2 separate regions of the Homo sapiens genome follow, and region 2 is linked to region 1. Evidence: fine-mapped expression QTL. A gene starts in region 1. The other region holds a variant in brackets. All regions are shown on one strand. Distances are from middle to middle. Region 1 holds the start of TM6SF2 (transmembrane 6 superfamily member 2). Region 2 overlaps MAU2 (MAU2 sister chromatid cohesion factor).

Evidence for each region. PIP is the estimated chance that this variant, and not a neighbour inherited with it, causes the effect.
Region 2: its variant is fine-mapped to the expression of TM6SF2 in cerebellum (GTEx, PIP 0.91).

The regions. Positions count from the first base shown.
Region 1 is chr19:19,271,361-19,276,727 of GRCh38, forward strand. TM6SF2 (transmembrane 6 superfamily member 2) reads right to left here and starts at 1,941. Exons shown (of 10, transcript NM_001001524.3): 1 at 1,761-1,941. The coding sequence starts at 1,855. It overlaps SUGP1 (SURP and G-patch domain containing 1), which reads right to left. Exons shown (of 14, transcript NM_172231.4): 14 at 4,673-5,314. The coding sequence ends at 5,288.
Region 2 is chr19:19,326,976-19,332,342 of GRCh38, forward strand. All of the region lies in intron 1 of MAU2 (MAU2 sister chromatid cohesion factor), which reads left to right. Among named protein-coding and RNA genes, the nearest start is that of MAU2, 8.8 kb to the left of the region's middle. The variant C/T (reference allele first, on the strand shown) is at 2,282.

The sequences.
Region 1 (5,367 bases):
TACTCATCCTTCATGGCCCATCCACATTGTTCTTCCTCCATGAAGCGCTCCCTGACTCCCCAGAAAGGATCACTGTTTAACTCGGGCTAGCTACAGAGGGGATATTCATCAGCCTGTTTCTTTTTCTCTTTTCTTTTCTCTTTCTTTCTTTTTTTCTTTTTCTTTCTTTCTCTCTCTCTCTCTCTTTCTTTTTGAGACAGAGCACTGACACCCAGGCTGGAGTGCAGTGGTGCAATCTTGGCTCACTGCAACCTCTGCCTTCTGGGTTCAGGCGATTATCCTGCCTCAGCCTCCCAAGTAGCTGGGATTACAGGTGCCCACCACCACACCCGGCTAATTTTTGTATTTTTAGTAGAGACGGGGTTTCACCATGTTGGCCAGGCTGGTCTCGAACTCCTGACCTCAGGTGATTTGCCCACCTCGGCCTCCCAAAGTGCTAGGATTACAGGCATGAGCCACCACGCCTGGCCTGCCCCTTCTGACTTTACCATTTATCCCATCATTTGTTATGTGTTTGACTCAGTCTGTTCAGTCATTCGACAACGTCAAGCCCCTCTGTGGCCAGGCCCAGCTCCCAAGCCACAGGGTCTCGAGTGCTCAGTTCTGTAGACTTCATTGTCTGACGCTCCCAGCTCCTCCCAGCTAAAGTCCAAATGCCTCTATTAACTCCACCCTACCCCTGCCCTGATCTGCACCCACAACCTGATAAGACAGGTCAACCAGTTGCATAGATAACAGAAGCCAGGTCTCTGGGCAGCCCTCAACCCAGGTGGGCAAATCCAGGCCCAGAGAGGATGGGAGTACTGTCCAGTTGTCCAGGGTCACACTCAAGACTCTGTCCATCACTCTCCAGGCCCCTATTTTCTCATGATCCCCTCAGAACCCAAGATTTCCATCCTGACCCCATCTAACAATGACATTATAGTACTCAGATGAGACCAAGACAAATCTTTGTACACAGTTTATAATCCTTAACCGTAACTATGAGATGAGATCTAGGATCGTGCCCATTACACTGATGAGGGAACTGAGGCTCCCAGAGGAACTTGGCTCACCCAGGATCCCAGGAGATGGAGATGGGTATTCCCACCCAGGGAGCCAGGCTCATGGTTAAGACTCTCTCCACCCCATGGCTTGGGTTGAGCTGGGTTTAGAAGTACGAGGGGCTTGCAGATGCCCACTATCCGGTGGCTGGACCCACAGGGCTAGGATCTAGGGTTAGGAGACAGGGACCAGGAAAGGGAACCAGTAGGGGGAACTGAGTCTAGGGACATGGTTAGCCAGCCCTGAACAAGAGGAAAGTCACAGGCCTGAGACAGGCAATGGAGTAGGGTGTGTGTGTGTGTGTGTGTGTGTGTGTGTGTGTGTGAGCAGGAGTCAGGTACCCGGGGCCTTATCTGGGACAATACTTTTACCCTTGGTGACTTTGGAACCTAGGCAGGGCGCATCCCTGGGAAAACCCCAGAAACCCTCCAAAGCTCTGGCTTGTGGGGACTCATCATTCCTTCTTCCCAGGCCACAAACATCCCAGGAGCGGCCGCATCCCAGCCTCCAGCCCGGCGGGAAGGGGACTTCCGGTTAGAGGGGGGTGTTCTTCTGGCCCACCCCAATCCTGCCGGGTCGGAGCTGAGCTGGGGCGCAGGGCTCGCAGAAGCCAGGTCCGCGGACCGCGCATCCTCCCTCCAGCCCACCTCCAGTCCTCCCCGCCCCCGCCCGCCCCCACTGTCCCCAAGGCCGCCCTGGCCCCTCTCCGCACGCACTGCGAGAGCGCCGAGACGTGGTTGAGCGCGTAGGACACCGGGAGGGCGCTCAGCGACAGCGCCGCGATCTTGCCGGCCAGCGGCGGGATGTCCATAGCGGCGGCTGCTGGACCCCGGCTCAGCCCCGACGCGTTCTCCAGGGCGCTCGGCTCCTCGTTGGCGGCGAGTCCGGGCCGAGGCTGCCAGGGACCCGCCCCGCACAAAGGTCGACCCCGCTGCGCCCTGGGCAGGCCGCCGTGACCGCCCTGCGTGTTCCCAGGGAGCCTCCAAGGCCCCTCCCCGGCCCTCCCCCTGGCAGCTGCCCCGCCCCTTCGCCCCTCACCATCGACACCCTCGTCTCCAATGGCCGTCCCGCTACTCAGCCTCAGTTTCCCTCACTGTCAAAGGCTGGGACACAACACCTCGGGATGCTTCTGCTCTTAGGCCAAGGGGTGCGCCCTGGAGGTCCTGGCGTGCCCCCTCTTTCCCCTGCCTCCACAACTTCGTTCTAAGGAAATTTTCTCCTGGACTCTGCGCTTCTAAACCTCTGCATTCCCCAGAGTTTCCCATCCCCACCCAAAGATCAAGTCGGCATTCCCTGTGCGCACGGATGGAGCAACCTCCAGCTCTTGGGTGCAAAATGCCTTTCAGTGGGCTTAGATTTGAGTTTTCATAAGGTGGCCACAAATGTAAACGTGTTTCCAGGCAGGTGTGAAGTTTTTTTGTTTGTTTTTTGAGAGGTCTCACTCTGTGGCCCAGACTGGAGTGCAGTGGCCCTCCTCCTTGAACTCCCAGCCTCAAGAGATCCTCCTACCTCAGCCTCCCAAGTAGTTGGGACTACAGGTATGCACCACCACGCGCAGCTAGTTATTTTTTGTAAAGACAGAGGTCTCACTTTTTTGCCCAGACTGGTTTCAAACTCCTGGGCTCAACAGATCCTCCCACATCAGCCTCCCGAGGAGCTGGGATTACAGGCGTGAGCCACTGCGAGGGGTCTTTAAGTGTGAGGCTTTGACTCCGGGGCTGTCCCTTTGCAGGCTAGTCCCGGGTTTAGGGTTCTTCATTTCGGGGAGAGGGTAGAAGGGGTCCTAGCGGGTGGGGGCTGAAGTTAGAATATCGGGATGGAGCCAGTTTGGTGAAGAGTTTGGGAACGGTGTTCCTGGCAGGGAGGAAAGTGGCTCAGGCTTGGAACTGAGCAGTGGAAAGGAGGTCGGTTCTGCTGGGGTGTGATGAGAAGCGAGACAGCTGTGAGAGGCTGTGGGAGGTTTTGAACAGCTGGGAGGGGGCCACAGTATTGGGGGGGAGAATAAGGAGACCATCTGTCTTTGTCACCCCCTCCAACCAGACTCTGGCCCATGTGGAGTACTTGTGGATGCTGCAGACAGCAAGGTGAACCATGCCCACCTGACGCCTGCCCTGCGGGACCCCAGTCTGCAGCTGGCACAAATTCTAACCACTGCCCCTACCTCAGGCCCCATTCTGCACGCAGCCCCTTAGCTTGATGCCAACTGGGTCACAGGTCTTCCTGAACTGGGCCACAAGAGGGTCTTCTGGCCGCAGGTCTGACTCAGCCTCCTTCCCCAGGTGTCCACTGCCCATGGGTGAAGTTCAGGTTCCCCTGGACTTTCCCCAACTCTAGCAGGGTCAACACCCCCCAGGCCTGCTTTCTGTCTGTAAAATGAGCCTTCTTGTAAGCGGGCCCCAGCATCCCCTCCTCCAGGCAGCCCTGCCTGCCACCCCCACCCCACCTTCTCCACACAAGGCCAGGGTGCCTGTGCCCAGCTCAGCCTAGGGGCTTGGCCTTGTCCCGTGTACAGGATGCACCTGCACACGCACACAGCACTTGGAGGCCTCGTCCCCTGGCAAGGGGTAAAGTCCATGCCCTGAGCCTGGTGAGCCTCCAGGTTGCTGAGAACTGAGAAGTGACTTGGATGGCTGAATGCCTGGGACCCAGTGCCAGGATTCCCTGAACCACTGGCTGCAGAGAACTACCCCGCTGTGCTCAGGGTCCTGGCCCACTGCCTTCTGGGCAGCCCTCATTCATGGGCACCCAGGCCAAGCCCACCAATGTTACTCTTTGCTCTGCCTCAGCCACAGCGTCAGGAAAGAACAAAGGGTGGTATATCACCCCAGCCTTGGCTCTGCCACTGCATCTGGCACCTCCCTGGTCTCAGACCCCACTGAGACACTCTGCAGACCGCCCCACCACGGCTCCCTGGTTCCTCTCAGTAGCAGCCTCAGACCTCATCCCCAGCAGCCTGGCTGACTGGAGTAGATCTTGTCCACCTGGTCCCCACACTTGGCACCTAGTGTTTGCTGAATGGCTGTGTGAACACAAGCTGGCCCAGGAGCCCGACTCCATGCCAAGCATGTGAATAGGGAGCCCCTGGTGCCTGCAGGGGCTGGGCAGCACCCACTGGGTGTGTGTGGAGGGGGTGGGGGCAGATGGAAATGCAAATTCCCAGGGCCCTGCCCAACCAGCTGACTCGGCAGCTGCAGCTTAACAAGATCCCCAGGGTGACTTAGGCACAAATGTGGGGCTCTGGCCCTGGGGCAGATGTGGGGGTCTTGGCACACACTGTGGCCTGGGCTACCCTCCTGCCTCAAAACCTCCGGCTCTGAGGCCCTTCCTTCTAGGAGCTGCCTGACATGTTGGCATGGCACATCCATGCATCCATGCGGCTGTCCCCTAACGACACAAGCCCCAGGGACTCGTGTGCCTACCACACTGGTGGGACCTGAAGGGCCACAGCCAACACCTGTGTGCTGGGCCGTGCCAGCACCACCTGCCAGGAGAGCACATGGGTGTGCCCAGAAGCCACCTGCCCCCACAGGTCTGAGGGAAGGTGGGGCCCTGCCTGGAGACCCCTCCCCAACCTCCCTCTGCAGCACAGTGCTAGGCTCGGAGGTTCCTGACATTCCTTTAGCCCAGGTGTGGCCAAGTCTCCAGCTTTATTATTATTATTATTATTTGAGACAGAGTCTTGCTCTCTTGCCCAGGCTGGAGTGCAAAGGCGCAATCTTGGCTCACTGCAACCGCTTCCCAGGTTCAAGCCATTCTCCTGCCTCTGCCTCCCGAGTAGCTGAGACGACAGGTGTGCACCACCATGCCCAGCTAATTTTATATTTTTAGTAGAGACAGGATTTCACCATGTTGGCCAGGCTGGTCTTAAACTCCTGACCTCCAGTGATCCGCCCGCCTTGGCCTCTCAAAGTGCTGGGATGACAGGGGTGAGACACTGCACCTGGCCTTCCAGCTTTACTATGCTGAAAACAACTTTCTTCCTCCCCTCCAGTGCAACCCAGGCTGAGCGGGGATGGAGACTCCACAGGCCAATAAGGAGAGCCCCGAGACAGCATCTTGCATCCCGCTGCTAACAGGAGGGGCTTCCTGCAACAGGACCAGGCATCTGTGGTGGATGAGCACTGGGACTTTATTACACGGCACGGCACTCGTGACAACGGAAGGGGTGGGCAGAAATGCAGGCCGGAACATTCCACAGTCCAGGGACGGTTGGTCATTCAGAAAGTATGTATTTCCAGAACACTCAGTAGTAAGGCCGTCTGGGATTGTTCTGTGGAAGGCAAAACAGATAACAGGAGGAGGGGATTAGCACTAAAGACAGCA
Region 2 (5,367 bases), 56 kb after region 1:
TTATTTTTATATTTTCTATAGAGCTAGGGTCTAACTGTGTTGCCCAGGCTGGTCTTAAACTCCGGGCCTCAAGCAATCACCTGCCTTGGCCTCTCAAAGTGCTGGGATTACAGGTGTGAGCCACCACACACAGCCTCCCCAGGAGCTTTTTTTTTTTTTTTTTTTAGATGGACTCTCACTCTGTTGCCCAGGCTGGAGTGCAGTGGCGCAATCTCAGCTCATTAAAACCTCTGCCTCTCAGGTTCAGACTATTCTCCTGCCTCAGCCTCCCAAGCAGCTGGGATTACAGGTGCCTGCCACCATGCCAGGCTAATTTTTTCTACTTGTATTTATTTATTTATTTATTTATTTATTTATTTATTTATTTTGAGACAGAGTCTCGCTCTGTCGCCCAGGCTGGAGTGCAATGGCGCGATCTCGGCTCACTGCAAGCTCCGCCTCCTGGGTTCATGCCATTCTCCTGCCTCAGCCTCCTGAGTAGCTGGAACTACAGGCGCCTGCCACCACGCCCGGCTAATTTTTTATATTTTTAGTAGAGACGGGGTTTCACCGTGTTAGCCAGGATGGTCTTGATCTCCTGACCTCATGATCCACCCGCCTCGACCTGCCAAAGTGCTGGGATTACAGGCGTGAGCCACTGCGCCCGGCCTCTACTTTTATTAGAGATGGGGTTTCACTATGTTGGCCACACTGGTCTCGAACTCCTCAGCAGCTTTTTTGGGGTCACAGTAGTTGGTGTCTCGGTGACTCTTGCCTCTGTAGGGCCTCAGAACACCTGCCGGCCGCCTTGTTCCCTGGGTCTGCTCAGCAGATTCTGGAGCTGTTACAGTGCATGGCAGGACACTTTACCTGAAAGCCTTCCTTCTCTGAGTATGGTTTTGGCAGTGATGTGGGTGTGTTTTGGCTGCTCTGGGACTCCCCTAAGTAAATAGTTGATGACTATAAGCATTGTCACTTTACTTAGACATTTCTTGGCTAGAGAATTCGCAGTGACCAACCTGGGCACTACCCTGTCTCTACAAAAAATTTGAAAATTAGCGGGCCCGTGGTGGCTCACATCTGTAGTCCTAGCTACTTGGGAAGCTGAGGCGTGAGGATCACTTGAGCCCAGGAGGTCGAGGCATCAGTGAGCCGTGTTCCTGCCACTGCAGTCCAATCTGGGTGACAGAGAGAGACCCTGTCTCAAAAAAAAAAAAAAAAAAATTTTGCAATGCCATTTCTGCAGATTCTGACAGGTTGTGTTCTTCTATATTTTGCTTTCCTCTTGTTCTCTCTCTTCTTGCTGTACACCCATCCCTGTAAGTTTTCATTCTTCTCCTCTCTTCCAGGCCCTATGGCTTTTTTCTTATTTTCCCACCTGTCTTTTAAGCAGACAGATCCATCTTGGTCATTTGGACATCTGCTGTTGAATCAAGAGAATGTACCTGCATATCCGTTTCCCCCTTAACTTTTTTTTTTTTTTTTGAGACAGAGTCTCACTCTGTTGCCCAGGTTGGAGTGCAGTGGCGTGATCTCGGCTCCCTGCAAGCTCCGTCTCCCGGGTTCATGCCATTCTCCTGCCTCAGCCTCCCAAGTAGCTGGGACTGCAGGCGCCCACCACCATGCCCGGCTAATTTTTTGTAATTTTAGTAGAGACGGGGTTTCACCATGTTAGCCAGGATGGTTTCGATCTCCTGACCTCGTAATCCGCCCGCCTCAGCCTCCCAAAGTGCTGGGATTACAGGCGTGAGCCACCGCGCCCAGCCACCCCTTTAACTTTCTTACTTCTGATCACAGTCCCTTTTATCCCTTGGCCTGGGAAGTGCACCATCATTCTTAGGTTTTCCTGGTTTGAAAGCCACCCAGGACTAAATGCCGCCTCTCTGGAAGAACTTACTATTTTCTATAATCCAGGCAGTCATTCTTTGAACAGTGGTGTTTTCTGACTGCGTATGCCATGCTTGCTTTCTCTGTGTCAATGCCATGCGTGCTTTCTCTGTGGTTGGAACAGGGCTGCTTTTTAATGGTGGTTTTGCTCATCTGACTTAGAAAGCAGCTCCAGACTGTGCTGGTCAGATACTTAATTCTGCATCCAGGTTTAGCCTGAGCATCTATGGTTCACTTTCTCAGCAAGTGATTAAATGCTTCCTTTTCTCTTAAGACCCAACAGGGCTAGGTTCTGAGCCTCTCCTCATCAGGCCCAGCGTAAGCAGTTCTTTCATTCTTCAGGATCACAACTGTGTCCTGCTAAATTCCGTGTCCCATCTGCAGGGAGCAGAGACTTGTGCAGAGCTGGCCGTTA[C/T]GCAGTTTCATGAAGTGATCTGTGCTTCCTCCTGTTTTTGTTTCTATTTCCTTCCCTCTCACTCTTGAGTCACCTCTGACTTCAGGATGTGAAATCTGTTTAGGAACCATCACCTCACGGTTCTACCAGCTGGTCCCTTCCTCTCCCACCCCGGTTCTTCTACTTCCTGATTGCCAGTTACTATAGCATCATTGGCACCTACTACATGCCAGGCCCTGCATTGGTGCTTCACAGAGCAAGGTCTCCCTGGATCCTCAACAAATTAACAGGGTAAGGCCCACCTCAGACTCACCTGTGATGACACCCAGCCACTGCAGGAGAATGTGCTTAGCCACAGTCACACAGCAGCAAGAGGCCAGGGAAGCTGCTAAATGCTGTGCTTCCATCCCAGAGGTGTTGCAAGCAATAGGGTAGTTTAAAAAAAAAATGATTTTGAGCCAGGCATGGTGGCTCATGCCTGTTATCCTAGCACTTTGGGAGGCTAAGGCGGGAGGAGTTTGAGACCAGCCTGGGCAACATAGCCAGACCCTGTCTCTTAAAAAAAAAAAAAAATTGAAAAATTAGCCACACATGCCTATAGTCCCAGCTACTTGGGAGGCTGAAGTAGGAGGAGTGCTTGAGCCTGAGAATTCAAGGTTACAGTGAGCCATGATTGCACCACTGCATTCCGGCCTGGGTGACAAAAACCCTGTCTTTTTAATTATTTATTTATTTATTTATTTATTTATTTTTTATTTTTTTGAGATAAAGTCTCACTCTGTCACCCAGGCTGGAGTGCAGTGGCGCAATCTTAGCTCCCTGCCACTTCTGCCTCCTGGGCTCATGTGGTTCTTTTGCCTCAGCTTCCAGAGTAGCTGATGTGACAGGCACACACCACCATGCCCAGCTAATTTTTGTATATTTTGTAGAGATGGGGTTTTGCCATGTTGCCCAGGTTGGTCTCAAACTCCTGAGCTCAAGCAGTCCACCTGTCTTGGCCTCCCAAAGTGCCAGGATTACAGGCGTGAGCCATTGCTCCCAGCCAACCCTGTCTCTTATAAAAACAAAACAACAACAGGCCAGGCATGGTGGCTCACGCCTGTAATCCCGGCACTTTGGGAGGCTGAGGTGGTAGTATCTCCTGAGCCCAGGAGTTTGAGACCAGCCTGGGCAAGATAGCGAGACCCCCATCTCTACAAAAAAGTAAAACAATTAGTTGGGCCTGCCAGGCGCCATGGCTCACGCCTGTAATCCCAGCACTTTGGGAGGCCAAGGCGGGTGCATCACCTGAGGTCAGGAGTTCGAGACCTGCCTGACCAACATAGAGAAACCCCGTCTCTACTGAAAATACAAAATTAGCCAGGCGTGATGGCGCATGCCTGTAATCCCAGCTACTCGGGAGGCTGAGGCAGGAGAATCGCTTGAACCCGGGAGCCGGAGGGTGCCATGAGCCAAGATCACACCATTGCACTCCAGCCTGGGCAGCAAGAGCGAAAATTCATCTCAAAAAACAAAATTAGTAGGACCTGGTGAGATGCACCTGTAGTCCCAGCTACTTGGGAGACCGAGCCAGGAGGATCTCTTGAGCCCAGGAGTTTGAGGTTACAGTGAGGACCACTGCACTCCCCCTGGGTGGCAGAGGGATACCATGTCTAAAAACTACAATCAAAAAAAGCCTTTTTTTTAAAAGTTACTTTGGTTTTAAGGAATAAGAAGCCTTGAAACACTCAGCCCTGGACTGAATCCTCCAGGCACCAGAGCTGTGCTGGTCTGGACCCTTCCACCCCACTTGAAACCTGTTGGCCCTGTTGCAACCCTCTCTTGCTTTCCCTGAGAACCCTAAGGTGACCCCAGGGGCTGCTGATGGAGACAGTCACCTCCTTGCCCTGCTCCCTGCAGCCTCTCACTTTGGCTGCTTTGCTATCATAAGGAAGGAAACATAAAAGCTACTTTTTAGCATTACAAAGTTAAAAAAAAAAAACACCCGGGCACGGTGGCTCACACCTGTAATCCCAGCACTTTGGGAGGCCGAGGCAGGCAGATAACAAGGTCAGGAGACCGAGACCGTCCTGGCTAACATGGTGAAACCCGATTTCTACTGAAAATACAAAGAAAAATTAGCCAGGCGTGGTGGCGGGCGCCTGTAGTCCCAGCTACTCAGGAGGCTGAGGCAGGAGAATGGCGTGAACCTGGGAGGTGGAGCTTGCAGTGAGCTGAGATCGCGCCACTGCACTCCAGCCTGGGCGACAGAGTGCAACTCCGTCTCAAAAAAAAAAAAATCACGTAGATGAGGTAGCAACCTTGGGTAAGGCATTCTACATCCTTTATTTGTGAGATGGATATATTTTTCTGATTTCCAAATATATGCTACAAGTCATACAGAGGGCTGGGTGAGGTGGCTCACAACTGCAATCCCAGTACTTTGGAAGGCTGAAATGGGACGATCACCTGAGCCCAGGAGTTCAAGACCAGCCTGTGCAGCATAGCAAGACCTTCCCTGTCTCTACAAAAAAAAAAGAAAAACAAAACTCTAACAAAGATACAAAAGTGAAGTCATTTAGTAGGTGTCAGATTGATGGCCCTGGGGAATTGACTGGCTCACCCTGACACCAGGCCCATACTGCCCTTCAGGAATGTGTGTCCTCATGCAGAGAGATCCAGGTGTCACTGATGTCCCAGTGAAGAAGCAGTGGCATTTAAAGACAGGGAGAAATCCCATGCCATTTAGGGCTTTGTGTCTGAAAGGCATACGCCTCCGTTCTGTGGCCATTTGCACTTACACAGAAGCCCTCACTTTCCTCTAATGAACTCTACTCATTATCCAAGTGGATAAAGCCATCGTTCGATCAGCAGATGTTTCCCGAGCACCTACTGGATGTCAGCTTGCTGCAGGCATTGCAGCCACAACTTTAAAGTCAAACATCATGGGGCTTTTTTTTGTAAGAGTCAGGGTCTTGCCCTGTTGCCCAGGCTGGAGTGCAACAGCACAATCATAGCTCACTGCAGCCCCAAACTCCTGGGCTCAAGTGATCCTCCCACGTCAGCCTCCCAAGTAACTGGCATTACAGCATGCACCACCATGCCTGGCTGATTTTTTTTTTTTTTTT